Regions from separate parts of the Homo sapiens genome. Here all the other regions are linked to region 3. The links come from fine-mapping of genetic effects on gene expression. A gene starts in region 3. Each other region holds a variant in brackets. All regions are shown on one strand. Distances are from middle to middle. Region 1 holds the start of WIPF2 (WAS/WASL interacting protein family member 2). Region 2 holds the start of RARA-AS1 (RARA antisense RNA 1). Region 3 holds the start of RARA (retinoic acid receptor alpha).

Region 1 (10,862 bases), 91 kb before region 3:
CATATTGATTTGTTTTTTGAAATCATGTGTCCAGGCAGGTTATATTATCTGTTCATTTCACTTTGGGATATTAGTGTTGCAAAATATTTGTTATAAGAAAGGAACATTGGGACTGGGTGTAGTGGCTTACACATGTAATCCCAGCACTCTAGGAGGCTAAGGCAGGAGGATCACTGGAACCTAGGCGTTCCAGATCAGCCTGGGTAACACAGTGAGACCTTGTCTCTACTAAAAACAAAAAAAAAATTAGCTGGGCATGGTGGTGTGGGCCTGTAGTCACAGCTATTTGGAAAGCTGTGGCAGGATTGCTTGAACCTTGGAGTTCCAAGTTACAGCCACCTATGATTGTGCTACTGCATTCCAGCCTGGGTGACGGAGCAAGACCCTGTGACATTGGATATGGTAGGGTGGAAAGTCACCAGCCAGGACATTAAGAACGCAGACTCAGCCAGGCATGGTGACTCATGCCTGTAATCCCAGCCCTTTGGGAGGCTGAGGCAGGCAGATCACGAGGTCAGGAGTTCGAGACCAGCCTGGCTAACAGTGAAACCCTGTCTCTAAGAAAAATGCAAAAATTAGCCAGGTGTGGTGGCATGCGCCTGTAGTCCCAGCTACTCGGGAGGCTGAGGCAGGAGAATCGCTTGAACCTGGGAGGTGAAGGTTGAAGTGAGCCGAGGTCGCACCATTGCACTCAAGCCTGGGTGACAGAATGAGACTCCATCTAAAAAAAAAACACACAAAGGCCGGGCGCGGTGGCTCATGCCTGTAATCCCAGCACTTTGGGAGGCCGAGGTGGGTGGATCATGAGGTCAGGAGATCGAGACCATCCTGGCTAACACAGTGAAACCCTGTCTCTACTAAAAATACAAAAAATTAGCCGGGCGTGGTGGTGGGTGCCTGTTGTCCCAGCTACTCAGGAGGCTGAGGCAGGAGAATGGCGTGAACCCGGGAGGTGGAGCTTGCAGTGAGCCGAGATCGTGCCACTGCACTCCAGCCTGGGCGACAGAGTGAGACTCCGTCTCAAAAAAACAAAAAACAAAAAACAAAAAAAAACCACACACACAGGCTCAGCGGGGTGCGGTGGCTCACGCCTGTAATCCCAGCACTTTGGGAGTCCGAGGAGGGTGGATCACAAGGTCAGGAGTTCCAGACCAGCCTGGCCAACATAGTGAAACCCCTTCTCTACTAAAAAATACAAAAATTAGCCAGGTGTGGTGGAGCACGCCTGTAATTCCAGGTACTCAGGAGGCTGATGCAGGAGAATTGCTTGAACCCAGGAGGTGGAGTTTGCAGTGAGCTGAAATCATGCCACTGCTCTCCAGCCTGGGCGACAGGGCAAGATGTGTCTCGAAAAAAAAAAAAGGGGTTGGGCGCAGTAGCACATTCCTCTAATTCCAGCACTTTGGGAGGCCAAGGCTGGCGGATCACCTGAGGTCAGGAGTTCAAGACCAGCCTGACCAACATGGATAAACCCCGTCTCTACTAAAAATACAAAATTAGCTGGGCATGGTGGCACATGCCTGTAATCCCAGCTACTAGGGAGGCTGAGGCAGCAGAATAGTTTGAACCCAGGAGGTGGAGGTTGCGGTGAGCCGAGATCTCGCCATTGCACTCTAGCCTGGGCAACAAGAGTGAAACTCTGTCTCAAAAAAAAAAAAAAAAAATGCCGGGCGCAGTGGCTCACGCCTGTAATCCCAGCACTTTGGGAGGCCGAGGCGGGCGGATCACGAGGTCAGGAGATTGAGACCATCCTGGCTAACATGGTGAAACCCCGTCTCTACCAAAAATACAAAAAAAAAAAATTAGCCAGGTGTGGTGGTGGGCTCCTGTAGTCCCAGCTACTCAGGAGGCTGAGGCAGGAGAATGGTGTGAGCCTGGGAGGTGGAACTTGCAGTGAGCCGAGATCTCGCCACTGCACTCCAGCCTGGGCGAGAGAGCGAGACTCCATCTCAAAACAAACAAACAAACAAACAAAAAAACAAAGGGCCAGGTGTGGTGGCTTACACCTGTAATCCCAGCACTTTGGGAGGCCAAGGCAGGTGGATCACTTGAGGTCAGGAATTCAAGACCAGCCTGGCAAATATGATGAAACCTCATTTCTACTAAAAATACAAAAACTAGCCGGGCGTGCTGGCATGTGCCTGCAATCCCAGCTACTCGGGAGGCTGAAGCAGAAGAATTGCTTGAACCCGGGAGGCAGAGGTTGCAGTGAGCCGAGATCGCGCCATTGCACTTCAGCCTGGGCAACACAGCAAGACTGTCTGAAACAAACAAACAAAAAACACAGACTCTGGAGATACTTTTACTTTCGCTACTTATAGATATGTGACTTTGAGCAAGATGATTAACCTTGCTGTGTCTGTTTCTTCATCTGTAAAATGGGCTTAAAAATATCTGCCTCAGAAAGTTATTGAGAGGATTAAATGAGCTATGTGAGGTTTTGACAGTGCCTGGCACATGGTAAGTGTTACTAAATGTCAAACTTATGATGACTTCTGTAACCTAATTTCTTGCCTCCCCCAGAAGTTCTAACTCTATATCAATATATTTTCTGAACCAGGTGAGGTGGCTCACACCTGTAATCCCAGCACTTTGGGAGGCCGAAGTAGGAGGATCACTTGAGGCCAGGAGTTCCACACCACCTGGGCAACAAAGGGAGATGCTGTGTCTGTGAAAAGAAAAAAATTGGCCGGGCACCGTGGCTCACGCCTGTAATTCTAGCACTTTGGGAGGCCTAGGCAGGTGGATCACGAGGTCAGGAGATCGAGACCATCCTGGCTAACACGGTGAAACCTCATCTCTACTGAAAATACAAAAAATTAGCTGGGCGTGGTGGCGGGCGCTTGTAGTCCCAGCTACTTGGGAGGCTGAGGCAGGAGAATGGCATGAACCCTGGAGGCGGAGCTTGCAGTGAGCCGAGATTGCACCACTGCACTCCAGCCTGGGGGACAGAGCGAGATTCCTTCTCAAAAAAAAAAGAAAGAAAGAAAAAGAAAAAAAATGTAAAAATTAGCTGCATGTGGTCACCAGTGCCTGCAGTCCCAAATAGGAGGCTGAGGCAGAAGGACCACTTGAGCCCAGAAGTTCAAGACTACAGGCCAGGTGTGGTGGCTCACGCCCATAATCCCAGCACTTTGGGAGACCAAGGTGGATGGATTATCTGAGATCAGGAGTTTGAGACCAGCCTGGCCAACTTGGTGAAACCCCATCTCTACTAAAAACACAAAAATTAGGGCCAGGCGCAGTGGCTCACAACTCTAATCCCAGCACTTTGGAAGGCCAAGGCAGGTGGATCACCTGAGGTCTGGAGTTTGAGACCAACCTTGCCTACATGGTGAAACCCCATCTCTACTAAAAATACAAAAAATTAGCCGGGCGTGTTGGCAGGCGCCTGTAATCCCAGCTACTCGGGAGGCTGAGGCAGGAGAATCGCTTGAACCCGGGAGGCGAGCTGAGATTGCGCCATTGCACTCCAGCCTGGGCAACAAGAGAGAAACTCTGTCTCAAAAAAAAAAAAATACAAAAATTAGACAGGCATGGTGGCTGGTGCCTGTAGTCCCAGCTACTCGGGAGGCTGAGGCAGGAGAATCGCTTGAAGCCAGGAGATGGAGGTTGCATTGAGCTGAGATCACACCACTGCACTCCAGCCTGAGCAATAGAGTGAGACTCATTTTCAAAAAATAGAAAAAATAAAAAGACTGCAGGCCAGGCGCAGTGGCTCATACCTGTAATCCCAGCACTTCAGGAGGCCGAGGCGGGCGGATCATGAGGTCAGGAGATCGAGCCCATCCTGGGTAACATGGTGAAACCTCGTCTTTACTAAAACTACAAAAAAAAAAAAAAAATTAGCCAGGCATGGTGGCAGGTGCCTGTAGTCCCAGCTACTCGGGAGGCTGAGGCAGGAGAATGGTGTGAACCCAGGAGGCGGAGCTTGCAGTGAGCCGAGATTGCGCCACTGCACTCTAGCCTGTGCGTCAGAGCGAGACTCTGTCTCCAAAAAAAAAAAAAAAAAAGACTGCAGTGAGCCATTACTGTGCCACTGCACTGCAGCATGTCTTTAAAAGACCCTGTCTCTTAAAAAAAAAAAAAAGTGCGTTCAGTTATTGGAATGTGCCATGATTCTTCTTGCTTTGCCCAAACTCTCCCTACAATGCTTTTCCTTCACTTCTTCCCTGGTCAATTCCTACCTGTCCCTCAAGTCTCACTTAGAATATGGGTATGGCCTCACTTAGTTACTTTCTTTTTTCTTCCTTTAGACAGGGTTTCACTCTATTGCTCGGGCTGGAGTGCAGTGGCCAATCATGGCTCAGCCCAGCCTTGATCTCCTGGGCTTAAGTGATCCTCCCATATCAGCCTCCCAAGTAGCTGGAACCACAGGCTCACACCACCGTGTCCAGCTAATTTTTTTTTTTTTTTTTGAGACAGAGTCTCACTCTCGTTGCCCAGGCTAGAGTGCAATGGAGTGATCTCAGCTCACCGCTACCTCCGCCTCCTGGGTTCAAGCGATTCTCCTGCCTCAGCATCCCAAGTAGCTGGGATTACAGGCATGTGCCAACACACCTGGCTAATTTTGTATTTGTAGTAGAGACGGGGTTTCACCATGTTGGTCAGGTTGGTCTCGAACTCCCCACCTCAGGTGATCTGCCCGCCTTGGCCTCCCAAAGTGCTGGGATTACGGGCGTGAGCCACCGTGCCCGGTTATATCCGGGTAATTTTTGTAGTAACAAGATTTCACCATGTTTCCCAGGCTGGTCTTGAACTTCTGGGCTCAAGCGATCCCCCCTGTCAGCCTCCCAAAGTGCTGGGATTACAGGCATGAGCCACTGCACTTGGGCCATTTACCTTTTTCATGAAGCCTATATCACTATTTCCCCAAGTCTGGGTGAGATGTCCCTATATTCATCCCAGCGGCTGCCCTTATCACAGAGTGTGTGATAGAGCATGGGGCTTTACATTAGCTACAGTGGGCAGTGAATGCCCTCTGAGGACGAAGCATTTGCAGTAAGGCTTGAAAAATGAGGAAGAGGCGGAGGATAGCCAGTACACAGTCCCTGAGGTGGGAACTGCTGAATGGGGTACATTGCAGTGATAGAAATCAGGTCCTCATAATGTAGAGTGAGTGAGGAGGGGACAGGCAGGGGATGAGGTTGAAGAGTTGGGAGGCTCTGGTAAGGTGTTTGGACCCACCATCTCCCTGGCTCCATCGCCCCACGTATGGCCATGCAGGATGTAGACAGCTGAAAATCTTTACCTCGTGTCCTTGATCCCTATGCCTGCTGTGTTCCCTGCCTTCTCTGATTAATAATAAAATTCCATTCATCCTTCAAGGCCCAGCTCCAAACCATTTAGGAAACCTCCTTCCATTCTTTAGCAGGAATTAATTGCTCCCTTGTCTGACGTCCCACAGCACTAATCACACGCTGACTTGTATCTCAGCTAGCTGTTTATGCCAGTCTGCCCACCAACGTAGTGAGTTCCCTGAGGGCAGAGGCTCTGTCTTAGTCACCTCTGTAGCCATCTCCTGGTGTTTAGCAGGTACTCAATGTGACATTTACTTGACTAGTGGGTGGTGCCTAGTACTACTCATGGCAGAATAGAAGGAAAACAAAAATAATAACAACTTATGCTCTATCACGTTTTCCCATTCATTAACTGATTTCAGCTTTGCAACAACTCTATGAGACAGACGGGACAGGCACTATTAGACCCATTTTACAGATAGGGTAGCTAAGGCCCAATGGCACACAGCTTGTAAGTAATGGGGACTAAGTCCCAATCTTGCCCCCTTACTTCGGATTCTGTGCTGGGAATGGAATTAAACCAAGAGTATTTTGAAGCTATAATGGAAAGCGCTTTTCTGGGTGGACTAGGGAGAGATACTTAGTCAGCTGTCAGGGTTTAACAGCAGCTCCATCAAAGAGGGCACAGGATTTCTCTCTCTGGCCCAAGCAGCTGGAGGGGTCCACAGCACCATCCTATAGCCCTGGAAGCTGGAGGAAACCCCAGCCCGAGAAAGAAGAGACGGTGTTCGAGTCAGGTGGGTAAGATGACGTAAATGATGACTTGTGAGCAGTGGCCTGCCTCTGTTGCCATGACAACCGGAGCTTGACTACTTGGCCTTTGCAAGGTTGGCCGAGGCGGGTTCTTCGTTAACTCGAGATTAAGGAAGGATATTTAGGGGGGAGGGTGTGTGTGTGTGCGGCGGATTAAAGACGAAAGGAGTATATTCAACAATGACTGTTTAGCTCAGTGGTTCTCCACCTTGGCAACACGTTAGAATCACCTGCAACAATTTCCTGATGCCTAGGCTGCACCCCAGAATTAAATTATAATTTCCAGGGGTGGGAACCAGGCATCATAGTATTTAAATCTTGCCAGGTGATTCCAATTGCAGCTAAAGTTGCAAACCCAGCTTTTAGCTGGTAAGCGGAATTCCTGTGACCTTCCTAAGATGGCGTCCACTCAACCGCTTCCGCCTTTACGTGGGCCGGCAGGGGGCGGGCTTCCCAGGGGCGCATGCGTCTCGCATCTCTCCGCTCCCTGCTCTCTCCTCCTTTTTCCCCCGCCTCCATTTTGTTCGCGGACGCTGGGGACGGTGGGAGCAGATCCATTTCCGGGTTGGCAAAAGGGGCGG[T/TGGCGGCGGC]GGCGGCGGCGGCGGCGGCGGCGGCGGCGGCGACGGCGAGAAAGAGCTTGCCGGGGGGCGAGCAGGACAGGACGAAGCCGGAGTGTAGGCGGCAGAGGATTCGCTCCCAGAGCAGCTGCGGCCAGGTCGGAAAGAGGCCGGGGCGGCTGGGTCAGTCGCTGAAATGACCTGCGGACCTGAGTGGGAGGGAAAGTCGCGGGGAGGGGGGCTCGGGGCGGGGCTTGAGAAGAGAGGGGGGCATTAGAGGAGGGGCCGGAGGGGGAGAGGGGTCTTGCGGGTGGGGCCTGAGGGGCGGGGGGCCGGGGGACTGTATCGGAAGAACCTGGAGGAGAGAGGGCGTGGGGAATCTGGGGAGGAGTGGTCGAATATTGGTATGGGGCGAGCGGGGACTGGAAAAATGGGGAGGAACGTTTTTGAGAGACAGGCAATAAGGGCTCCTGAAGGGTTGGGTGAGTTAAGGCGGCAACTCTGTGAGGAACGAGGTAATCGTGCGCAAAAAGGGAGACGGGAACGGAGGACCTGTTGGGAACGGCTAATTAGCAGGATGCTGTGGGTGAGGAGTCCAGTGTGACATTTTGGGGATTGAGTTAGGTGAAAGCTAGTGTTTGGGAAGATGGCTCGGGAAACTGCTTACACTAGAGGGAATCTTGAGAGCGTTCTTTGAAAAGGAATCAGAATTTAGTTAAAGGTTGGATTGAGAATGTTAAGATGCGCATTGGAACGTCTGGAGTTGAGGGTTCATGTTGAAGTGGTGTGAAGTGAGGGAAGATGGAATTTTTTTTTTTTTGTTTTAAAGGTGGGGTCTGGCTATGTTGCTCAGACTAGTCTTGAACTCCTGGGCTCAAGCGATCTTCCCACCTTGGACTCCCAGAGTGCTGGGATTACAGGTGTGAGCCACTGCACCCGGCCAAGATGGAAATGTTAAAGTGTTCAGCATGGCAGTGTGTATGGTCGAGTTTTTTATCAGGAAGGAAAGTTCTTAAAAATAGCATTGAGGCAAGGAACTGATATGTGATGGAATTCTTTTTTCTTTTTTTTTCTTTTAAGAGACGTGGTCTCACTCTGTCGCCCGGGCTGGAGTGCAGTGGCATGATCATGGCTCCTTAAAGCCTCGACCTCCCGGGCTGAAGTGGTCCTTCCACCTAAGCCCCGCCAATAGCTGGGACCACAGGTGTGACCACTACTCCCGCCTAACGTGTGTGTGTGTATATATATATATATATATATATATATATATATATATATATATATGTATATATATATATTTTTTTGTTGTTGTTGTTGGAGACAGAGTCTTGCCCTGTTGTCCAGGCTAGTCTGGAATTCCTGGGCTCAAGTGATCCTCCTGTCTCGGCCTCCGCAAGTGCTGGGATTACAGGGATGAGCCACTGTGCCTGGCCCAGAATTCGTTTTTTTTTTTTTTTTGAGATGGAGTCTCGCTCAGTGGCCTAGGCTGGAGTGTAGCGGTGCGATCTCGGCTCACTGCAAGCTCCGCCTCCCGGGTTCACGCCCATTCTTCTGCCTCAGCCTCCCGAGTAGCTGGGACTATAGGTGCCCACCACCACACCTGGCTAATTTTTTTTTGAATTTTTAGTAGAGACGGGGTTTCACTGTGTTAGCCAGGATGGATGGTCTGGATCTCCTGACCTCGTGATCCGCCCGCCTCTGCCTCCCAGAGTTCTGGGATTAGAGGCGTGAGCCCCTGCGCCTGTCCAGAATTCATATTTTTTAAAGGACTTGAATAATCTGTTATTGCTTTGGGCTCTCCCAGGGTCCCCGTCCTTTTTCATGCTGTTATTTTTGCCTTACGGTTTTGGTTTTTGACTGTCTTACTGAATGTTTTTGGCTATTCTGTTCTCCTTTTACAAATCAGAAGAGAACCACAGGGAATAAGGACAGTTTTAGCCTACCTATGGATTTAGTAAATAACTTCAAGGCAAATTATTAAGCTCTCATTTTTTTCCCCTTTGAAATATAGGTTTTCTCTGTCCCTGCCTCTAAAAGTTTGTCTTAACACATGGGATCTTTAAAGTGGTTGCATAGAAGTGATCTCTGAAAATGAGATTGAGATATTGATATTTAAAAGACATACAATGGTGCACCTGCCTGTAATCCCAGCTACTTGGGAGGCTGAGGCAGGAGGATTGCTTGAGTCTAAGAGTTCGAGACCATTCTGGGCAACGTAGCAATACCCCATCTCTCTCTCTGTCTCTTTTTTTGTTTGTTTGTTTAAGACGGAGTCTCGCTCTTTCACCCAGGCTGGAGTGCAGTGGCGTGATCTCGGCTCACTGCAACCTCTGCCTGCCGGATTCAAGCGCTTCTCCTGCCTCAGTCCCCCAAGTAACTGGTACTATAGGCATGCACCACCACGCCCAGCTAATTTTTTGTATTTTAGTAGAGATGGGGTTTCACCATGTTGGTCAGGCTGGTCTCGAACTCCTGACTTCAGGTGATCCACCCACCTCGGCCTCCCAAAGTGTTGAGATTACAGGCATGAGCTACCACACCTGGCCGCATGTTTAGTTTTTTAACTCTTATTAATGTCAACTTTTAAAAGTAAAAATTTCATATTGTGTTACATTGGTTGCCATCAAGATGAAGATAGGGAAGTTAAGAGTTGGGGAAGGTGGAGATGAATGAAGTCAATTGATGAAGACTAGTAGAATGTAGTGTTGGTTTTTTTATTTGTTTATTTATTTATTTTGAGACAGAGTCTTGCTGTATTGCCCAGGCTGGAGTGCAATGGCACAATCTTGGCTCACTGCAACCTCTGTCTCCTGGGTTCAAGCAATTCTCCTGGCTCAGCCTCCCAAGTAGCTGGGATTACAGGCGCGTGCTGCCACGCCCAGCTAATTTTTGTATTTTTAGTAGAGACAGGGTTTCACCGTATTGGCCAGGCTGGTCTCGAACTCCTGACCTCGTGATCTGCCCACCTTGGCCTCCCAAAGTGCTGGGATTACAGGTGTGAGCCACCGCGCCTGGCCGACCTGTCTCTTAAAGGAAAACAAGGCTGGGCGCGCTGGCTCATGCCTATAATCCCAACGCTTTGGGAGGCCAAGGTGGTGGATCACCTGAGATTGCAGTGAGCTGAGATCGCGCCATTGCACTCCAGCCTGGGCAACAAGAGCGAAACTCCACCTCAACAACAACAACAACAACAACAAAAGGAAACATGTTTTTCTGTTTCTTCCTCTTAGCCTTGCTCATGTGTGTGTGTGTTTGTGTGTGTGTGTGTGTGTCTGCGTGCCAGCCAGGGAAGAACTGGTTTTGATTTGATGCATATTCAGTTTTTTTTTTTTTTTTTTTTTTTTTTTTTTTTTGAGACAGAGTTTCGCTCCTGCTGCCCAGGCTGGAGTGGAATGGCGCAGTCTTGGCTCACTGCAACCTCCGCCTGCCGGATTCAAGCGCTTCTCCTGCCTCAGTCCCCCAAGTAACTGGTACTATAGGCATGCACCACCACGCCCAGCTAATTTTTTGTATTTTAGTAGAGATGGGGTTTCACCATGTTGGTCAGGCTGGTCTCGAACTCCTGACTTCAGGTGATCCACCCACCTCGGCCTCCCAAAGTGTTGAGATTACAGGCATGAGCTACCACACCTGGCCGCATGTTTAGTTTTTTAACTCTTATTAATGTCAACTTTTAAAAGTAAAAATTTCATATTGTGTTACATTGGTTGCCATCAAGATGAAGATAGGGAAGTTAAGAGTTGGGGAAGGTGGAGATGAATGAAGTCAATTGATGAAGACTAGTAGAATGTAGTGTTTGTTTTTTTATTTGTTTATTTATTTATTTTGAGACAGAGTCTTGCTGTATTGCCCAGGCTGGAGTGCAATGGCACAATCTTGGCTCACTGCAACCTCTGTCTCCTGGGTTCAAGCAATTCTCCTGGCTCAGCCTCCCAAGTAGCTGGGATTACAGGCATGTGCCACCTGGCTAATTTTTGTATTTTTAGTAGAGACAGGGTTTTGCCATGTTGGCCAGGCTGGTCATTTACTAATTCCACCTCACACTTGATACTAGAGTAGTGTTTACCCTAGCTGGTACTGATAAGTTATGTGATAGCACCAAGGTGAAATGCAGGAGAGGTGTGAACATTGGAGTTTTCAGGTTTTACTGATGGCTTTTACGAAGGGAAGAGATTCTAGACTCACTAGGTGTTTTTAGGAAAAAAAAAAGGCAAGAGGCAAGAGACAGAAGTCTTGTTCTGTTGAAGAGAAAATTTTTTTT
Region 2 (10,862 bases), 31 kb after region 3:
CAGGAGCAGTGGTATGCCCCAGTCTGCCCATACCCTTTTTGTAGGAATTCTTGCTGATGAGGCTTCCTACTCCCATTCCCCATCCAACAAAGGTGTTGGGTCCCTCCTCCCCCTCATCCCTTTCCCCAGGTGGGGAGGAGGCAGCACATTAGGTGGCCTGGGTGCGCCCTTCAGAGACCTAGTAGCCTATGGGACCAACAGAAACCCTCTCCAGGTCACTGTGGGGAGGGCTGTGTATTTGTTCTGCTACAGCCAGGGTGGGAGCCCTAGAGATGGTCCGGCGATTCTCCCCGCCCCCTAAACTGGCCCCTGGGGCTTGGTCTCTGAAGACTGGTGTTTACTGTGGAGGTCTCAGATTCTGTGTGCACTACGGGTCAGGGCTGTGTGTGTTTTGGGGGTGGGGTCACGGTTGGGTGTGTGTTGGGAAGGGGATTAATGACTTGTGTGTATTGGGTGAGAGGGTTAGAGAGCTGAGTGTGTTTTGGGGGAATTAAATCCAGAGCTAAGGAGGGAGAGTCAGCCTGTCTGTGTGTTGGTGTTGGGGCTGGGAGGGGGAGTGACTTAGGGCACAGAGTGTTTAAAGAGGAGTGGTCTTTCGTTTGGGTTCTTAACCTTTCTTGGCTGGAGGGGAGAACTGATCTGCCTTTTTTTGTTCACCCTGGGAATTCCATGGGCAAAGGGGTCTGACTGGGGGCTGTGGAGTAGGCATTTAGTGCTGAGTTTAAAACTTGGACACTGGGCTGGGCGTGGTGACTCATGCCTGTAATCCCAGCACTTTGGCAGGCCAAGGCGGGCGGATGACCTGAGGTCAGGAGTTTGAGACCAGCCTGGCCAACATGGTGAAACCCCATCTCTACTAAAAATACAAAAATTAGGCAGGCGAGGTGGCACGTGTCTGTAATCCCAGCTACTCGGGAGGCTGAGGCTAGAGAATCGCTTGAACCCAGGAGGCAGAGGTTGCAGTAAACCGAGATCATGCCACTGCACTCCAGCCTGGGGGATAGAGCGAGCCTCTGTCTCCGAAAAAAAAAGATAATAAAATAAAACTTAAGACACTGGCTGCGTGCAGTGGCGCCTGCCTGTAATCCCAGCACTTTTGGAGGCTGAGGTAGGGACTTCAGCCCAGGAATTTGAGACAAGCCTGGACAACATAGTGAGACCCTGCCTCTACCAAAGAGAAGAAATTAGCCAGGTGTGGTAGCGTGTGCCTATAGTCTCAGCTACTCGGGAGGCTGAGGTGGGAGGATTGCATGAGCCTGAGAGGTTGAGGCTGCAGTGAGCTATGATCACGCCACTGCACTCCAGCCTGGTGGGTGACAGAGCAAGACCCTGTCTCAAAAACAACAACAACTTGGACATTTATGTCACATACAACTTGCTGATAACCTCTCTGAGCATGTTTCTTTTTTGTTGTTGTTTGTTTTGAGACGGAGTCCTGCTCTGTCGCCCAGGCTGGAGTACAGTGGTGCAATCTCTCAGCTCACTGAAACCCTCTGCCTCCAGGTTCAAGCGATTCTCTTGCCACAGCCTCCTGAGTAGCTGGGATTACAGGCGCCCGCCACTATGCTGGACTAATTTTTTTGTATTTTTAGTAGAGATGGGGTTCCTCCTTATTAGGCTGGTCTTGAACTCCTGACCTCAGGTGATCCGCCCACCTCGGCATCCCAAAGTGCTGGGATTACAGGTGTGAGCCACTGCACCTGGCCAAAGACATTTATTCATTTATTTATTTATTTGTTTTAGACAGAGTCTAGCTCTGTTAGCCAGGCTGGAGTGCAGTGGCACGATCTTGGCTCACCGCAACCTCTGCCTCCCAGGTTCAAGCCATTCTCCTGTAGCCTCCCAAGTAGCTGGGACTACAGATGCATGCCACCATGCCCGGCTAATTTTTTGTATTTTTAGTGGAGATGGAGTTTCACCATGTTAGCCAGGATGGTCTCGATCTCCTGACCTCCCAATCCGCCTGCCTCGGCCTCCCAAAGTGCTGGGATTACAGGCATGAGCCACCGCGCCCGGCTTGTTGTTATTTTTTTGTTTTGTTTTTGAGACGGAGTCTCATTCTGTCACCCGGGCTGGAGTGCAGTGGCTCGATCTCGGTTCACTGCAACCTTTGCCTCCCGGGCTCAAGCGATTCTCCTGCCTCAGCCTCCCAAGTAGCTGGGACTACAGGCGTGTGCCGCTACGCCCAGCTAATTTTTGTATTTTTAGTAGAGGTGGGGTTTCACCATGTTGGTTGGCCAGGATGGTCTCCATCTCTTGACCTTGTGATCCGCCCGCCTCGGCCTCCTAAAGTGCTGGGATTACAGGCATCAGCCACTGTGCCTGGCCGTGACCCAGACCCTTTGTAGGTGGGAGCTGGAGAGAATGGGATGCTAACATCTATAGAGCACCTACTGTGTGTCAGGGGCTTTGTCTGTGTTTTACAAATTTTAATCCCTGCAATCCTGGAAGAGGGACATTATCCCCACTTACACAGAGGACACAGTGCTGGGGGAGGTTAAAGTACTGCAGAATCATGACTGTAGGATTGTAAAGCTGGGCTGTTTTCCACCATCTACATAGGCAGCTTTGAGAGTGGATTGTGGGGCACACTCTTGGGTGTGGGAAGTGTGGGGGGTGGGGCTTAGTGCTGACTGAAACCCCCTTCCCCACTGTAGAGGCCCTTTCTCTGCCTTAGAACCTACCTTTCCCCGGTAGGGGGTGTAGGGAAGGCCCAAGCCATACCCCCTCCTCTCTGTTTTGGATCCTGAAGGCTGGAGAGAAAGAAAGATAAGGGGCCTGGGCCAGATCTCCATCCTGTCCTGGAAGCTGTGGATACAATCTGTTCACACCATCCCCACCCCCAAATCTGCCCGCTGTAGCCCACGGGAGTTTGCAGAACTCAGCGGGCACCCTCCCCCCGATCTCCAGACACTGAAGGAACAGAATGTAAAAGCCACAGTTCTTATTCTTAATTTGTTTCAATTTGTGGATGGAGGCAAAGAAGTTGCAAGCCATCAACAGAGGAGCCGGGGATGGGAGCCCCAAAAGGGTGGCTGCATGTTTGCTTCGTGTGCCTAGAGACTGGGGAATGCCCGAGGGTCTGGGTGAGCCCCAGCAGAAGGCAGAAAGGAGGAGGTTGTGTCCTTCCCTTCTTCCTATCCTCTGCCACTTCCTCGCTGTTGCAGTCTGTGCATACTGCCTCCTTCCCTGCTTCCCACTCTTTCCCTGGACAATAGGAGGGACAGCCCAGGCGGAGGGACAGCCCAGGCAGAGGGACAGCCCAGGTGGAGGGAGTGCTGCCTAGCAATGCCTTTCTTGGAGTCCGAAATGTAGAGTCAGACAAAAGAACATGACATGGAGTTTTTAATGAAAATGGGGTCCCTCACCTTTTATCTCCCAGCAAGGATAATGCACAGGTTCCCTCTGGACAAGATCCCAGCATAGACGCGGGGAGGGAACTCAGGGAAGGAAGCCCGTCTTCCTTTTAGGTGGGTCAGGGCCGAGGTATTGTGTCTACCCCATGCCAAGGGATGTGTTGCTTATGGGGCTGTACCAGTGCAGGCCTGCCTGCCCTTTGAGGGAGTAGTGTCTGTGGGAAGAGGAAGTGGTTTCCATCTCTAAGTCATTTTGGGGCAGTGCCTTCTTCCTCCTCCTCCTCTGTGGAGTTGGGGCACAGCGAGGGATTGGGCCTCCCAGGGTTGACTGGAGGCCACTCAACCTTTGGCTGTCAGAAATAGAGGTGCTCCCCTCCCCATTTTGACTTCTGGGTTGCTGGAAACCTCAACCAGCCCACAGACCAAGGGCCTTCCATGGGCAGGAGTCTTAAAGGACAGTTCTTCCTGTGTGGCCTTGGGCAGGTCACCCAAGCTCTCTCCAAATCTGTTTCCTCCTCCTTAAAGCAAGACTTCTGGCTGGGCACGGTGGCTCACACCTATAATCCCAGCTACTCGGGAGGCTGAGGCAGGAGAATCACTTGAACCCGGAGGTGGAGGTTGTAGTGAGCCGAGATCGCGCCATTGCACTCCAGCCCGGGTAACAGAGCAAGACTTGGACTCAAAAAAAAAAAAAAAAAAAAAGCGTGGGCACGGTGGCTCATGCCTGTAATCCCAGCACTTTGGGAGGCCGAGGTGGGAGGATTGCTTGAGCTCAGGAGTTCAAGACCAGCCTTGGCAAGATAGCGAAATAGCGAAACCCCATCTCTACAGAATATACCAAAATTAGCTGGGCATGCTGGTGCACACCTGTAATCCCAGCTACTTGGGAGGCTGAGGCATGAGAATTGCTTGAATCCGGGAGGTGGAGGCTGCAGTGGGCTGAGATCACACCACTGCACTCTAGCCTGGGTGACAGAACGAGACTCTGTCTCAAATAAATAAATAAAAATAAAAAAATAGAGCAAAACTTCTAATCTCTCCTTGGCTGGGCGAGTTGCCGTTAGGCCACGGTCGCCTGCTTCCTGCTGAGGCCCTTGGTGAGTTTCACGTACCCAGCAAGGCTGTGATAGTGAGGGGCAGGGTAGAGCTGGGTACTGTCTTGGGGGATGGTGCCACTCTATACTGGGAGCCAGTGTCCACCTGGCACTGGGCCTCATGATTTCCTGTTTGTTGTCCCCTCCAGATGGGGTTGGGGACAGGAGGGGGCCCTGCCTGGCACAAGTGGGGGCCAGTTTGGCCTGCACCTGCTGAGGGCTTACTAAACGCAAAGCCCTGAGAAGGAGCTGAGGGAGGGATAAGGCTGAGCAGGATGGGGCCCCAGGCCTGCAGACAGCTGCCGCTGGAGGCCCCCCAGCCCCAGCTGCGGGCCAGAGCCTTCCTTGTTTCCCACTTCTCCCACTGCCCCAGGACACTGTGTTCTGCTCTGACCTGCCCCATGACCTTGCTGTTGCCCAGAACGGGCCTCTTGCCCTAGCTTCTCCTCTCCAGCTCCGGAAATCCTATCTATCCTTCAAGGAACATCTTGAATGCCGCCTCTTCCCAGAAATCTTCACAGATGTTCCCCCTTGCTTGCCACACTCTGCCTCCCTACTTAGAATGCCTGTGGGTCCTTATTTATTTTTTAACAACACTCATCTCGCTACCCAGAAGTTGCTTCTCCCCTGTTCCTGCCATGAGCTGTAACCATTTGGGACATCTTTTCCTGACCACAAGGTCTTTGATGGCAGGGACAGAGTCTCAGGTCCCTTAGCGCCTTGCAGCTGTGAGCGCAGAGCCTTGCTCCATCATTTGAAAGATCCCGAAGGCATGGAAGCACTCTGTCCTCTTCGCCATTAGTCTCATCCACTGTCAAGATTTGCATACCTGCCCCCAGACCCCAGCATTCCATCTGTAGCCCTGACTGCACTTCAGGGCCCCACATCCACCTGTCCAGCAGCCCAGTGGACTTCTCTGCTTTGCAGTCTCAGGAACTTCACTGATGC[G/A]TAAGTCACACACAAGTCTCTTTGCTACCTCTTTTCCCATACCCCTTACCCCCACCCCCCCACGTTATTTGTACCTTTAAAATGTTTATTGAATCCACCTTCCTCTGTCCATCAGCACTTCCAGTTTCCTAGGCCAAGCCACCCTTGTCTGATGCCTGGACTGCTGCAGTAGCTTTTACCTGGTCTCTCTTGCCCTCCTATAATCCATTCTTCACACAACTACTGGAAAGATCTTTTTACACTGTAAATCTGATCTTTCCTTTGCTTGGAACCTTTCTATGGCTTTTCCTTGCATTTAGGATAAAATCCAAAAGCCTTACTGAGGCCTATAAGCCCCCCTGGTCTGGCCTGAGCCCACCTCTCTAGCCTGGTCTTGTGTACCTTTTCCTTTTGAATTTTGTGCCCCATGATTCTAGCCTTCTGCCAGTTCCTTCAATGAACTCATCAACTGCTGTAACCCCAGGGCCTTTGCACAGACTCGCCCTTTAACTGGAACTACACTCCTTTCTACTCTTTGCCTGATTAACTTACAAACTTTCTCTTATGGTAGGTCTGTTTTATTTGAGTTCTTCCCTAATTTAGTTAAACCTAAATTAGGTACCTATGTTAATTCTTCAGAGCATAATAGCATTTATCTCAGTTTGCAATTGTGTGTGCATACAGTGATTATTTGCTTAATGGCTGTTGCTCCCTAAGGTCTACAAGGGCAGGTTCCCCAGGGTGTCCACATAGAAGGTGCTCAGAAAAATACCTTGAATTGGCCTAGCTTGGTAAGAACATGGGCTTTGGCAGCAGGAAGTTCAAATACCTGCTCTACTCTTTATTATTAGTAATGTGATCTTGGACAACCCACATAGCCTTGCTGAGACCTGTTTTATTTGTAAAACATCTCTTGGAGTTGCTGTGAGGATAAAATGACAACATATATAAAGAGCCAGGCTTCTTCTAGAAGAATGTCCTTGGGTAGCATGTACATTTCCATCCTTCCTTTTAGAGAGTGGGGGTAATAGGATACCCCCTCCTCCAGGGGTATCCCCTCTTTCTAGGGACCTACCCAAGCTAGGCCTTTCTTCCAGTGAAACGTGCATCCCGAGGGCTTCTAGGATGAAGTAGTCCACTGGAAGGCACCAGCTCTTCCTTTTATCTCTCCAGAGCTGGACAGTGCACCAGGGGCCGGTACTGGTTCCCCAGCTAGGAGACACCTTGGGCGGGGCTTTGCTCGCCGGAAGCACGCAGAGCGTGGGGAGGAGGGCCCCCTCTGCCTGTGTTTGTGCCAACAGCACCCGCGCTGCCGCGTCGGGTTCCGGCGGCCGGAGTCACACATGATGTCACAGACAATGACACAAGCCGGTGTCTCATTCCGACACAGCGTCCGAGCTGCACAATGTCACACCCGGGTGCCAAACACTTGGCCCCGCGCGACCCGGCCCTACGCCTCCTGCCGCCGCTCTCCGCGTCTCCGGGGGAGGTGGCCCGGTTCGGCCGGGCAGGGGGCTGGCGGGCGAGCCCCGCGGGCGGGCTGGCGAGCGGGTGATGTCACGGGCAGCGGTGGGTGGGTCACTCGGAGGTGAGGCGCCGCCAGGCGAGTTCAGCGAGAGTTCAGCCGCATTGCATTAGGCAAATGAGGCCCGGCCTGGGTGGGGGTGTGTGTTAAGGGGAGGACACCGGGACCACCCCCCTCTTCCCCGCCCCACCACCTCCTCCACCACGGCTTCGCTCGGCCAGGGACTGACCAAACCTTGGGGGAGCCTGGGAGCCGGAACTGGTACAAGGGAGGACGCCCGCCCCTCTTCCGTCCTTGTCCCCTCGCAGCCCCCTCCTCTCCCTGTACTCGGCGTCCCTCTGTACTCTGTGTACTCCTCATCTGGAGCCTTTCCCCCTTCCTGCTTCTCTCCTCTCCTCCCCCTTCCCAGGCTGCCCCCACTTGCCTGTCCACATGCCGCCTCTCCCTCTCGGTTCCCTGCGTTTCTCCCGCTGCAGCCGGACGCGCCGGGAATGGGTTAAGCCAGGGGCGGTGCCTGGACGGGGCGGGGCGGTGGAAAGGGGGTGGTGCCCGGAGGGGAGGGGGCGCGCAGAGCTGGGGTGGGGGGGCCGTGGCGCGTACCACCAGAGACCGAGCGAGTCGCCAGCTGCCCCTGGCCTGGCGGGGGCGGAACCGCGCGGGATCCCCACCCCCACCCGGAATCCTCGCCACGGAGAATCCCTGGAGAAGCCCCGGATCCCCGGCTGGGAGGAGGAAGTGCTCGTTGACCCCCAGCCCCGCGCTGATCCCGCCCCCGGCCTGCGGACTTGGGGAGCCGCTGTACTCTGCCTCGGACGCCACGAGACTCTAGACGGGAGTCCCCTCGAGGTGAAGCCGCTGAGTTCCCGGGCCCCGCCAGGCTTCCCTGGGAGAGCCGACGGACCCCCCCTCCCAGCACACACAACTTCCCTGCTTTTCACCGGGACTGGCGGAGCGGCCGGCGGACTTAGACGCGGGGACTTCAGGGCAGGGGGCGCCCCCTGCCCGGGTCACCAGTCGGGGCGAGGGGACGTCTCCTCTCCCCCAGCTGCTCTGCTCGGATGGCGCCGCCGGCTGAGTGACGGGGGCGGCGCGCAGGACTTCCCAGCTCGGACCTCTTGCCTTCGAGGGGAAAGATGTACGAGAGTGTAGAAGTGGGGGGTCCCACCCCTAATCCCTTCCTAGTGGTGGATTTTTATAACCAGAACCGGGCCTGTTTGCTCCCAGAGAAGGGGCTCCCCGCCCCGGGTCCGTACTCCACCCCGCTCCGGACTCCGCTTTGGAATGGCTCAAACCACTGTACGTACCGGCCTCTCAGTCTGCTGTTGTAGGGGGTGGGAGTGGGCGGTAGGGCTTCCACTACTACTCGGGGGTGAGAGTCCCGGGGTGTAGTGGAGGTCCTGTCTCTACCTTTCACTTAACCCGTGTTGCCCTTGCTGGACAATTGAACCCTCCCGGCCGCACCCTCCCCCCAGTAACCCTAAGTGCAATTTGTGTTAGATTAGGGCTGAGGAACTTTGAGAGTTCCTTCTTTCAAGCAACATTCCTTCATCTCTTGTTTCACTTCTTCCAGGAGAAATGAAGCCCAAGCCCCTTGCCCCCAGTTTATATCTTCTTGCCTGGAATCCAACAGCTTCACAGCAGGCTGGAGGGTGGGGTAAAGGTCCTGTCTGTGTGGGTTTGTCTGCTCCCGGGGGAAGGCCCCCCCGCCAGATCCCACTTGCCAAAGCCCGAGGGAGAGCCCCTTCCTGTGCGACAGCTGCTGCCCCCAGCCCTTGCTCTTGCGTCATTAGAGTGGGTGTCAGGGGAGCACTCAGTGTCTTTGGTATTGACAGTGGGGTGTGGCAGAAAGGGGCAACTTCATCAGACACCCGTCTGCCATCCTAACCTTCCATCTTGGCAAGGGGCACTGGGTCCTTATGGGGTTGTTGTCCTGGCCCCAGACACTTGGCTGTCATCTTTGAGGCTTTCATCCCCAGGAGTGGAGGGGAGAAGCTGCTCTGGTGAGAAGAATCCCTCTCCCCCTAATCCTAATCCGGTTTGTTCTCTGGGGAATGAGTTTGTTTTTGTGGGTCTGGGGCTGCTCTGGAAATGAGGACTGCATCCCTTCCCAGCTCCGCCACCGAGTCCTTTTGTTACCCTGACTTCACTTGGGGATAGGGCCAGGTCCTGGGCTGTGCCTTCCTAAGAGGGGCACTGATGAGAATCCTAGCATCCTGGCAGCCTGGTCACTTTCTCTCCTTGTTGCCCCCTGCCTGGGTGCAGGCTCCTCTGGGAGGAAGGGCTCTGTGCACACTCAGGAGCTCGGAGCACCAGGGTGTACACCTGGGCATTTTCCTGCGCAGCTGTGAGGCAGTGTACACTGGGTGGGCGGGAGCAGGCGCAAGGGGGTTATTGTTAGATGGCTCAGGTTTCTTCCCCTCCTGGGCTTTGGGCTCTTTGCTGGAGGGGAAGCTCTTCCGTGGAGGATCTCCCACCTTCCTGGACCTGCTGCCTCCCTCCTGCCTGCCAGGGAGGAGGGGTGGAGTGGGTCTCGGGGGGGCCCTGGCAGATTGGAGAAGGTTGAAGGGCAAAGGACTTACCCCACCCCTCTTGCTGGGAGAAGAGAGACCTGAGATGGACAGACAGCCCACCTCTGCCCTCCCAGAGCCACTTCTATCCCAGCTTTTCCTATTGTCCTGCCCCCGACCATTTCCTCTAGGGCCGAATCTGCTGTGTGGCTGTAGACACAAGAGGGAAGGTATCACCCTTGACTTTGGAAGAAGAGAGAGTGAGAGGATGACTCTAGGACCCTTTTTCTCATTCTCCCAGTGCTGGAGCAAGACCCCCCTCCCCTAGGGGGATAGTTGGAGCAGGGCTGCCAGAGTCACCCCTTCCACTGCCTTGGCCACCTTCTCCAGAGGGCTGGAGAGAAGCTGGGATCTGAGACCTTGGTCTCCAGCCCCTGTCTCTTCTTAGCCCATGGGGACAGCTCAGCTCTTCCTGGCCCAGAACTGGAGAGGGAGGAGGATCACAGAGAGTAGGACAGGCAGTGTATTGGTGAGCCCTTCCCCTAAACCACTGGACATGGGGAAGTGGAGACCTGTCCCCACATCCATTCTGGGGTGGGGTAGTAGACCTAGAGGCCTGGGTTTCCAGTTCCCGTAGTCTGAGCGTGGGTGTGCATATATAAGTGAGTGAGGTGTCAGTGGACTCGGGTCCTGAGGCTGTGAGGTTGGGAGTGATGGGGGTCTGGGGGCTTGCCTTGAGGCACAGGAAGGACCCGGAGTCTGAGGGTGGCAACTAGACTCAGTCTAGAATATGTGGGGCCAATGCCACCACCTTGGAAGGGTCCCCTTGGGTGTGTGGAAGTCCGCTGGTGACTGGAGCTGCCTCCAGCCCCCTCTTGGGGAATTCTCCACTCTCCCCTTTACTGCCACTGAAGGTGGGAAGAGCAGGTTGGCTCTGGGAGGAGGTGGCCTGGGTTCTGCAGGGCCCTAGGGACATTGCCTCCCTCCCCAGAGCCCTCATTTCGGTGCATTAGAGGACAAGGGGGGTGCACAGGATGTGGCTCCCCATCTGTCTCCCACCAATCTCCGCCACTCACACCTCCGCCCGCTCCCAGACGTCCAAGAATGTGAAGCACGTGGATGCCCGTAGTTGGGGGAGGGGGAGACGCTTATCAGGCGGCCGCTGGGCTAGGGGCCTTCTTCCGCTGCCGCGGTACACCCAGAGCTACCCCCGCCTCTCCCCGGGAGGAGGAAGGACGGTACAGAGGGCCCTACGCCCCCTCCCCAACCATCCCCAGGGGCTGCGAGGGGAGCTGCGGAGGAGCGGGCGCCAGCTGGATTGGGAGGGGAGCCGCTGGCCGGGGGCCCGGCTGATTTCCTGCTGATCTCCTCCAGGAAACCGGCCCCTTGTGCGAGCCTGCGAACGGCTCGGGGGCGTGGGGAATCCGGAGTGGAGCGCTCTGCGCCGCCCGCC
Region 3 (8,798 bases):
TATCTCTCTCCCCCACCCCAAGGAAGCTGATTAAGCTTCCATAGAGTGTTGGGTGTTGCCATGGAAAGAGCATAGACAAAATAAATTGTGTGTTTCAACCCCAGAGCTGCCACAGATGTTTCTGGCTCAATGGAGACTTGCCTGTGGCTAGCTAACTCTGCAAGAATGTGTGAGGTCCAGGCTGGGGGTGGTGGCTCACGCCTGTAATCCAGCACTTTGGGAGGCCGAGGCGGGCGGATCACCTGAGGTCAGGAGTTTGAGACCAGTCTGGCCAACATGGCGAAACCCTGTCTCTACTAAAATAAATTAGCCAGGCATTGTGGTGTGTTCCTGTAATTCCAGCTACTGGGAGGCTGAGGCAGGAGAATCGCTTCAACCTGGGAGGCAGAGGTTGCAGTGAGCCGAGATCGTGCCATTGCACTCCAGCTTGGGCAGCAGAATGAGACTGTCTCAAAAAGGAAAAAAAAAAATGCTGGGTGTGATGGCTCATGCCTGTAATCCCAGCACTTTGTGGGGCCAAGGCGGGCTGATCACTTAAGGGTCAGGAGTGCAAGACCAGTCTGGCCAACATGGCGAAACCCTGTCTCTACTAAAAGTACAAAAATTCACTGGGTGCCATGGTACACACCTATAATCACAGCTACTTGGGAGGCTGAGACAGGAGAATTGCTTGAGCCTGGGAGGTGGAGGTTGCAGTGAGATGAGATCATGCCACTGTACTCCAGCCTGGGTGACAGAGTGAGACTCTGTCTCAAAAAAAAAAAAAAAATGTGTGAGGTCTAAGCTACCCAGAGATCAAAAAGTTGGCAGAGCCTTATTCTCTCTGCGCCCCCTCTTTTGCATTGCTCCCTACCTTTACTAAGTGTCCCTTTGAATATACATCAAGCCAGGTGTGGTGGCTCATGCCTGTAATGCCAACACTTTGGGAGGAGGCAGCAGCGGGAGGATTACTTGAAGTCAGGAGCTTGAGACCAGCTTGGGCAATATAGTGAGACCCCCTTACCCTTCTCTACCAAAAAAATCTTAAAAATCAGCTGGGCATGGTGGCATGCACCTGTAGTCCTAGCTACTTGGGAAGCTGAGATGGGAGGATGCTTTGAGCCCAGGAGTTCAACTCGGCATGGGCTATGATCACACCACTGCATTACATCCTGGGTGACAGAGCGAGACCCTGTCTCTATAAAAGACAGAAAGCAGATACACCAATAAGAATGAGAAGTTGGGAATAAGATGTGATTTAGGTTTTATATATATATTATATACATATTATATATATTTTATATATATAATGTATATTATATATAATATACATATTATATATTATATACATATTATTTATATATATATATATATATATTTTTTTTTTAGATGGTGTCTTGCTCTGTCACCCAGGCTGGAGCAGTGGCGCGATCTCTGTTCACTGCAAGCTCCGCCTCCCGGGTTCACACCATTCTCCTGCCTCATCCTGAGTAGCTGGGATTACAGGCACCCGCCACCATGCCCGGCTAATTTTTTTGTATTTTTAGTAAAGATGGGGTTTCACTGTGTTAGCCAGGATGATCTCGATCTCTTGACCTCGTGATCCGCCCGCCTCGGCCTCCCAAAGTGCTGGGATTAGAGGCTTGAGCCACCATGCCTGGCCGGTTATATATTTTTTAAATATCTTGAGACGTGTTACCTTGACTGCTGAGGGAGGACAAAAGAGATCCAAGATTGAAATTTTATTTACATTTGTATCTGTGCCTAGCAATTAGTATAGTGCCTAATACCTGGTAGGTACTCAATAGTTGTTTAACAGATAAGTGAACCAAATAAGATACTGCCTTTCCCTCAGTGGTGAGAACAGTTCTAAGCTGAAGGTAAACGTTGGTGGTACTTTTGCACAGAGGTGGAGCAGGCCCCTGCATAAGAAGGGTGCTCTGTCTTACAAAATGTGTCTTGGCACAGTTTTGGAGCATTTATTAGCCTCACAGATGCATTCCAATCACTCCCTCTGATGTAGTGGCATTTTGCTTGAGGCAACTTCCATGTTGCTGGTGGGACGCTTTGGCTATGAGGGGAAGAGTCTTATCTACAGGCTGTGAAGAGGGCTGCCTGTCTGGATGTCACTCAGTGTGGCTAGATTGGCCAGAAGCTGGGTCTGTAGGCAAGGGTTTAGGGAGGAGCCCACCTTTGATGTCCCTCTTTTTAACTTGGGGCAAGTTGTGATCTCAGGTTCTTCCTGAAAAGATAAGGTACTTTCTAAGATACCTTCTCTTAAGCTACAAACAGTGCAGGTCTTCCTCTTAGAAGAGGTGTGTTCCGTAAGGGGAGAAGGTGTGCCCTCTGGCCTCCCCTTGATTTTCAACCCCAGCCCCAAGGCACTGGTAGTGGAAGTTAATTGGGTGCAAGGGGCTTGGGTAAAGGCTGAAGACTGGTGAAAGGAGAGAGCCAGCTTCGTTTTTTAAAAAGCTCTAATTGAGTTCTGAATCAGCCTCACTCCCTTTGATCCCTCCTCTGTTTCCCACACTGCCTGAAAGAGCTAGATCAGCACTTTATAACAAGGGTGCGCCTGCTCCCCGCACCGCCCCCCGCTCCTGACGCTCTCTGCTGCCGCCATCCACTGCTTGTCTCCTTCAGTTAAGATAATGAAGATGCTGAGAGATAAAATGTGTATTTAATAAGGGTGGGGGTAGGGAGGCGGAAAGGGGCAACCAGGGCCTTCCCTAGTTTGGGGCCTCGCCAAGACTTAAGCTGAAAGCAAAGCTAGAGTAAGACTTGGCCCCAGGGTGTGGGGGTTTCTGGGCCTCAATCCAGCTGACTTCACTGCCTGCTGTTTGCCCTAAATTCCCCCACCTCCACCCTCTCACCCCCACACTGCTTTCTTCTTGCTCCCAATGGGAAAAAGGACTCTTGCTTCAACTTTCTTTTCAGCTGGTAACTTGGCCTTTGGTGCGGTGCCCCCCACCCCAGTGTCAGCTGCAAGGTCGGGCTAGGGCAGCCCCCTCTAGCCTAGGCCTGTAGAAGCTGTGGGTTCACAGTGGGGGGTGAAAAAGCTGGAGTTAATGAAGACCAGCTGCTAGTCTGGGTTCTGCCTACAGCTAGCTGGAGGCCAGCCTTTGGTGGTGGTTGATGGGGGGGTGGGGTGACCTCCATCCATGGGCACAAGGATATCCTGTGGCAGCTAGGCTTGTGCTTCTCTCTGAGCTTAGTTTTATCCTTAGTTTATAAGAGAGTATCTGTTTCCTTCCCCTACTCCTCTCCTCCCCAAATAACACTCAGCTCTTATTGAACTTTATAACTGTAGTGGTGGCCCAGCTGAGATCTGAGGATCTCCAAACCCTTTTGTAAACACTCATTAACTGCCTGGGAAGAACGAAGAGCCCTGTTTAACAGCTGGGAGAGAACTGAGGCACATTAGGGTGAAAGGTTTGACCTAAACTCACCCCATGGACTCCACCCTGGGGCCTTCCATCCTTAGTCCAGCTCCTTTACTCAGTTCTTCCTGCAAGACAGAGGTGGAGGCATTGCTGGTGTCTTCTCCCCTTCTAGGGAGAGGCCATGCCCTCTCCCCTCAAGTCTGTCGCTGACTTCCTCTGGCCCTTCCCCTCATGACGTTTTCCCTGCTCTGCTGCTAGAGATATGTGCAACTCTCCTTGCAAAATGTTCTCAATCCACAACTTCAGAATTCTTATCCAGCTTTCTCTTGCCCATCTAGCCCACCAAACCTGAATTCTCCCTTTTGAGCTACTGAGAAGACTGGCTATACTAAACTGAATCAGTGACCTTGAAGTTGATCTGTTGTATTGAGGTCCCTCTGCCCCTATATTTATCCTAAATGGTATCTAGGAAAATATTCTCTCTTTAACTTGTTTATTCTGGTCATAAAGATTCGGGACATTACTGAGGGCTGGGTAGGGGCACTAGTTGACCTCTAGGTTCTACGTCCTGTTCTTCCACTGACAATTACCATTTCCAGTAATAGGTGTAACCCAAAGTTCTTTTTTGTTTTTTTCTCCTTCCCTAACCCCACCTGTTTATACTCTTGCCTATATATGTGTATTTGCAGACCCCACACATTCCCAGATACACATACATTGGTCCTACATGTTTCCCCTGTTTCCAGCTGCCATCTAAGTGAGCCTGCACTTTTTACATGCTGAAAATCTTTTTTCACCCTCTATGGCCTCCTAGGTCCTTGGGAATAATTGGGAGGGATGAAGGGACTCCTGCAGTCCATGAGGAAGAGGACAGAAGTGAGCGCCCAACCAAAATGAATGCTCCCTTTCCAAAATCTCTAGCTGAATGCCTTAGCAGGAGTGGCAGGGAAAGAGATCTTAACCCCACCTCCAGCACCAAAACCTAAATCCATCTGCTCAGGGCAGGCAGGAAGAAATGTCTATTTTCTCCTGTTTCAGGTCATCCTATCCTCGAGTTATCCATATGCTGTGTATTTGAGACAGGGAACTGTTCCTGTCCCCAGCCGATGACCAGACGCCCATCTTTCTTCCAGTGGGTTACTTCTCCCCCATCAGTCCTTCGCTCTGCGCCCGCTGACCCAGTCGGGGCTGGCTGGTGGAAGAGGGCGGGGAGAGCCTTCTAGTTGGCGAGTGGGCTTTAGGACCCAACGGGAACCCGTGCCTCTTGCAGCAGCCTAACCCAGAAGCAGGGGGGAATCCTGAATCGAGCTGAGAGGGCTTCCCCGGTTCTCCTGGGAACCCCATCGGCCCCCTGCCAGCACACACCTGAGCAGGTAGGACCATGCACACCCCTTCCCAATTCTTTGGCCGCCTTTGACCCCGGCCTCTGCTTCTGATCTAGCCATTTCCTTCTCGCCAGTTCTGGCTTTCCCCATCCCTCCTCTCCCGTCGCTCACTGTAGTCCTGGGAGGTGGGAGCCTGGGAACAGTGGGGTGTCTGAAAGCTCAGAGCCCTCTGCACCCTCCAGCACCCTTCCTGCATTTCTCCTGAGGCAGTTCCCGTTCTCTAGATAAGAGTGGGGAGTAGGGGGAAGGTCTGCCCAGGCCCCACGCCCTTGCACCCTCCTTTGCGGTATTGCCTAATACCCCTTCCCCCACCTCACCTAGACTGGAGAATTGGCAAGTGCTGAGGTAACAGAGAGAGGAGAGAGCCAGAGAGGGACCTGAGCTTTCCCAAGGGATTTCTTTCTTGCTTCCTCACCCAAAGAGCTCAGGACTTTGCCCCTACTCCCTACACACCTTGTAGGGGAACTAATGTCCCCTTCCAGGTTCATCTCACACTTGGGTGGCTAAAGGCTTTGCTAGAGGGTAGTGGAGGTTGTGAGCATTTTGGTGAGCTTTTCCTCTAGGAAAGTTCTTTCAGCTTAGAGCCCCCATCCATGTCAACATTTCAACACCTGCTGCAGAAGCCCCCCGACCCCACCTGTGTGTGTGTGTGTGTAGGGACAATGTGGTTGTAAGATCTAGAAGCTTTGGATAGAGGTGGCTGCATGCATTGAAGGGGAGGGATACCAGAGTGTGGCCCAGGCCAGAACAGGCTCAGTCCAGATGGCTAGGGAAGGGGGTGTGGACCAGATTGAGGAGGTCACCCAGCCTTGCCAGCTCCCTGAGCTTCTTGGCTTTCAGAATCTCAGGCTCCTGGTGTTTCTCTAGAGCTACAAGGTCCCCAAGCTTCTGCCCCGCTACAGGCTCTCTGGGAGAGGGCTAGATGGCACCTACTGTTTACAGTGGCTTATTTTTCTCTCCTGTGGTGGGCAGACAGGCCCTGCTCTCTGAAGATCTAGGGCGTGTCATTCTGGTTTGGTGGGTTTACAGGAAGGGTGTACACCTTGTCTGACTTACCATGTGTGAGTGTGTGTCTTGCTTCTGGGGGTAGTAGACTGGGGAGGGGGGTGATAGAAGAGACTGGTCACACTGAGGGAACTCCTCTAGCAATCAATGTATGATAGGAATGGGTGGCATGTCCCCATCTGGTAGCTCTGTCTAGGTGTGGGGTGTGCTCTGCATTCTTCCATGGCTCCCCGGGTCCCCTAAAGGTTGGTTTTAGAGGACAGGGTGGATAATGAATTGGCTTCAGACTTCGTTCTGGTCTTGATCCAACAAGGAAAGTAGAGATTCTGACTGTGAGCAGTGAACTAGGAATCAGAGGCCTGAACTGGAGACTTAGACTGGTTACTTAACTATATGTGTTTATATAGGTCTTCCCCTTTGCTAAGCCTTAGTTTCTCCATTTGTAAAAATGGCTATCAGTAGCAAGCAGGGACATTGCCACTAAAACCACAGAGACAATGTATCGTAAAGCTCACTGCAAACGGTAGTAATGGCTGGGGGAATCTAGGATGGAATCCTCTTCCTAAATCTAGGTCAATCTCTCCGCCTTTAGTTTTCTTCCCCCATCCTTTGCCCATCTGGGGGATGGAGGAACTAGGCAGGGCTATTGCCCCGGTTACTGCAGAATTCCCCTAATGCAGGTTGTAGCTGTTACCAGAGCACCTGTGGTCACAGAGTACAGATCTCTCCACCAGGCATTTCTTCCTCTGGGGCCCCATACTTGCTCCCCTGAGCCATGTCTCCACCTTCCTTCTGCCATCCCTGCTTGGCGTCCTTGTCTCTCTCTCCCCTGCCCAGTGGCCTCCTTGTCTGGCTCACTGGGCAGGAGCCCTAATCGGATTCGACAGCTGAGATATGTGTGGCGGCTAAGAGCAGGCAGGAGGGAAGCCAGTGGGAGGATGGTATGAGGACTGCCCCTGGCACTGCCCCGGCCTCCCAAGCACCACCTTGGGCCTGCTGATTTCTTACTTGGCTTGGCCCCAAGGAAGGGGTGCCAGAGGAAGCTCAGGAATGAACAGGCTGGGGTCTGGAGACTAGGAGAGGAGGAAACACACCAAGGTCCTCAGGACCTGGTTGATATTCGATGACCTTAATGTCAGTGTCACTGACTCTGACAAGGAGGAAAGGACAGCGATGAGCCAGGCTGACCCCCGCCACCCCATTCCCATAGCCCCACTTTCTTCTCTCTTCTTGTTCAGAAATGTTTCACTTTGCCTCATCTAGCCCCTTTGGCCAGTAGGTCACATCTGGGAGCTTCTGGGGGTGCCACATGTCTGCCTCAATCTGGGCTGTTTCCTCCCCTCCAAGATATTTCACTGTCTCTGGGCTGGGCGCCAGGACTCCTGGGTTTCCCTGCCTGTGGTGCAGGGCTCCCCTGCAGGGCTCCAGAGAGTCGCTTAGCTGGTTTCCTTCCTCCTTTGTGGGGAGGGCCTTCCCCTAGGGCTGGGAGGTGTCAGGAATCCCAGGTGGGACAGGGGTGGGGGCACAGTAGCCTCTGGCACTGTAGCACCCCAGCTTCTCCCTCCTAGCCTCTGACTCAGCTTGGGGGCAGCACATGCCCAGCCTGGCAGGCATGGCCTATTCTTGCCTCCAGGCTTCTCTCTTTACAGAAGCCTACATCTCCTGCTCTCATTTTTTAGTTTTTTTCCCCATGATATCTGCAGGTGGCTAGTGAAATCCCTGGTTTTGGGGAGCAAGGGACTAACATAATTGAGGCTGGGGCACTATTTTGTCTTCCCTCCAGTTGGGCCAGGATGAAGGAGACTGTCACAAACTTCCCCAAGCCAATTCCTTCTGCCCTCAAAAGACCAGTCAGTGGAGCCAGGCCCTGCCCTTTGGGTGCCCACAATGTGGTTGGCACTGATTTGTCAGAAATTGGGAAGGTTTCCCTCTAGACCGCTTGCCTCCTTTCTCCTCCTCCCGCAGGGTAGGGGCAGCTCTGTGATTGCAGGCACTTATGGGCAGGCCTCCCCCTAGGAAAGGGGTGTGGGATGCCCCCAGGATGGCCAAGTTGGCGCTAGCCCCAGGCTGGAGTGCTGGACATGATTCTGACCTGGGAGTTAGTGGGGGTAAGGCAGGGCATGGGCCTCCCTGCCCCCCTCATTTCCTGCTCTTTGGGCAGCTGTGGGCGAGAAAGGCTGCAGGGACTATTTTTAGTTGGTCAGTCCCCTGGCAGGAGGGACGTGCAGAAAAGCACGGGGCAGGCAGAGGGGCTGGCCAAGGTGAGGGTAAGCAGGCAGGCAGAGGAGTGAGGAAGGGCCAGAGGGGCAGAAGACAGCAAGGAGGCATGGGGAGCAGGGGCAGGACCTTACCCAGAGGGGCATGACCCAGGTAGATGGGCCGGGCTGGACTGGGTGGAAGAGTCCTGGCACCCTACAGGGTTTTCTTTATCCAGCTGGACTCAGAGCTGGAAGGGGTTTTAGAGGCTACCTAGGCAATCCCTTCCCCTTGCAGAGAAGGAAACTGAGGCCTAGAGAGAACACTCAATCAGTCATTGGCTGTGTTGAGACCTGAACCCAGGCCCTCCCTTTGCACCATTTTTCTGTTGTCATGGTTCCTCACCACAGCTCAGTGTGCTTCCCTTCCCTACTGCAGCAAGGAGGACCACGAGCCAGGCACACCTGGTCCATTTTCCCATCTGCTTTTTTGTGCAGGGTCTCTGAAAATCCCAGCTTGGTTTGTTTATAAGTCTCCATGTGGAAAGAGTCTGTGTCCAGGCTAGAAGGAGGTCAGAGTTGGGTTTGTTTGGGTGGCCTGTGGCCACTGGTGTGAATGGAGCTGCTGGACAGGCTCCAGCAGGCTCACAGGCTGGTGAGCTGTGGGGCTAGGAGACACCTTACAGAAGGGACGTCCAGACTCCCCAGAGCCCTTTGTGAGCCCTCCTCCTGCCCTGCCCAGGACCTGTGGGTCATGGTGGTTGTTTGCCCATCTCCCCAACAAAAGAAGGGAGCAGGGCTGAGGAGTGGGGAGATTACTACTGGCTTCTGATCGCTAGTCAGAAGGAGGCCCC

What was found.
Region 1: its variant is fine-mapped to the expression of RARA in whole blood (INTERVAL, PIP 0.96).
Region 2: its variant is fine-mapped to the expression of RARA in whole blood (TOPMed, PIP above 0.99).

Annotation. Positions count from the first base shown.
Region 1 is chr17:40,212,734-40,223,595 of GRCh38, forward strand. It overlaps WIPF2 (WAS/WASL interacting protein family member 2), which reads left to right and starts at 6,571. Exons shown (of 8, transcript NM_133264.5): 1 at 6,571-6,759. RefSeq lists enhancers at 224-518, 5,912-5,961, 6,402-6,511, 6,412-7,190. The variant T/TGGCGGCGGC (reference allele first, on the strand shown) is at 6,635.
Region 2 is chr17:40,334,670-40,345,531 of GRCh38, forward strand. The region is part of intron 2 of RARA (retinoic acid receptor alpha); the gene reads left to right. RARA-AS1 (RARA antisense RNA 1) reads right to left here and starts at 8,467. Exons shown (of 3, transcript NR_110861.1): 1 at 8,207-8,467; 2 at 7,327-8,021; 3 at 6,198-7,031. RefSeq lists enhancers at 6,745-7,323, 7,359-7,909, 7,396-7,445, 7,910-8,459, 9,560-10,110 and 2 more and silencers at 6,826-7,055, 10,816-10,862. The variant G/A (reference allele first, on the strand shown) is at 5,399.
Region 3 is chr17:40,304,555-40,313,352 of GRCh38, forward strand. RARA (retinoic acid receptor alpha) reads left to right here and starts at 4,626. Exons shown (of 9, transcript NM_000964.4): 1 at 4,626-4,732. CDC6 (cell division cycle 6) reads left to right here. Exons shown (of 12, transcript NM_001254.4): 12 at 1-103. RefSeq lists enhancers at 4,053-4,938, 4,318-4,487, 4,498-4,627, 4,939-5,822, 7,412-7,912.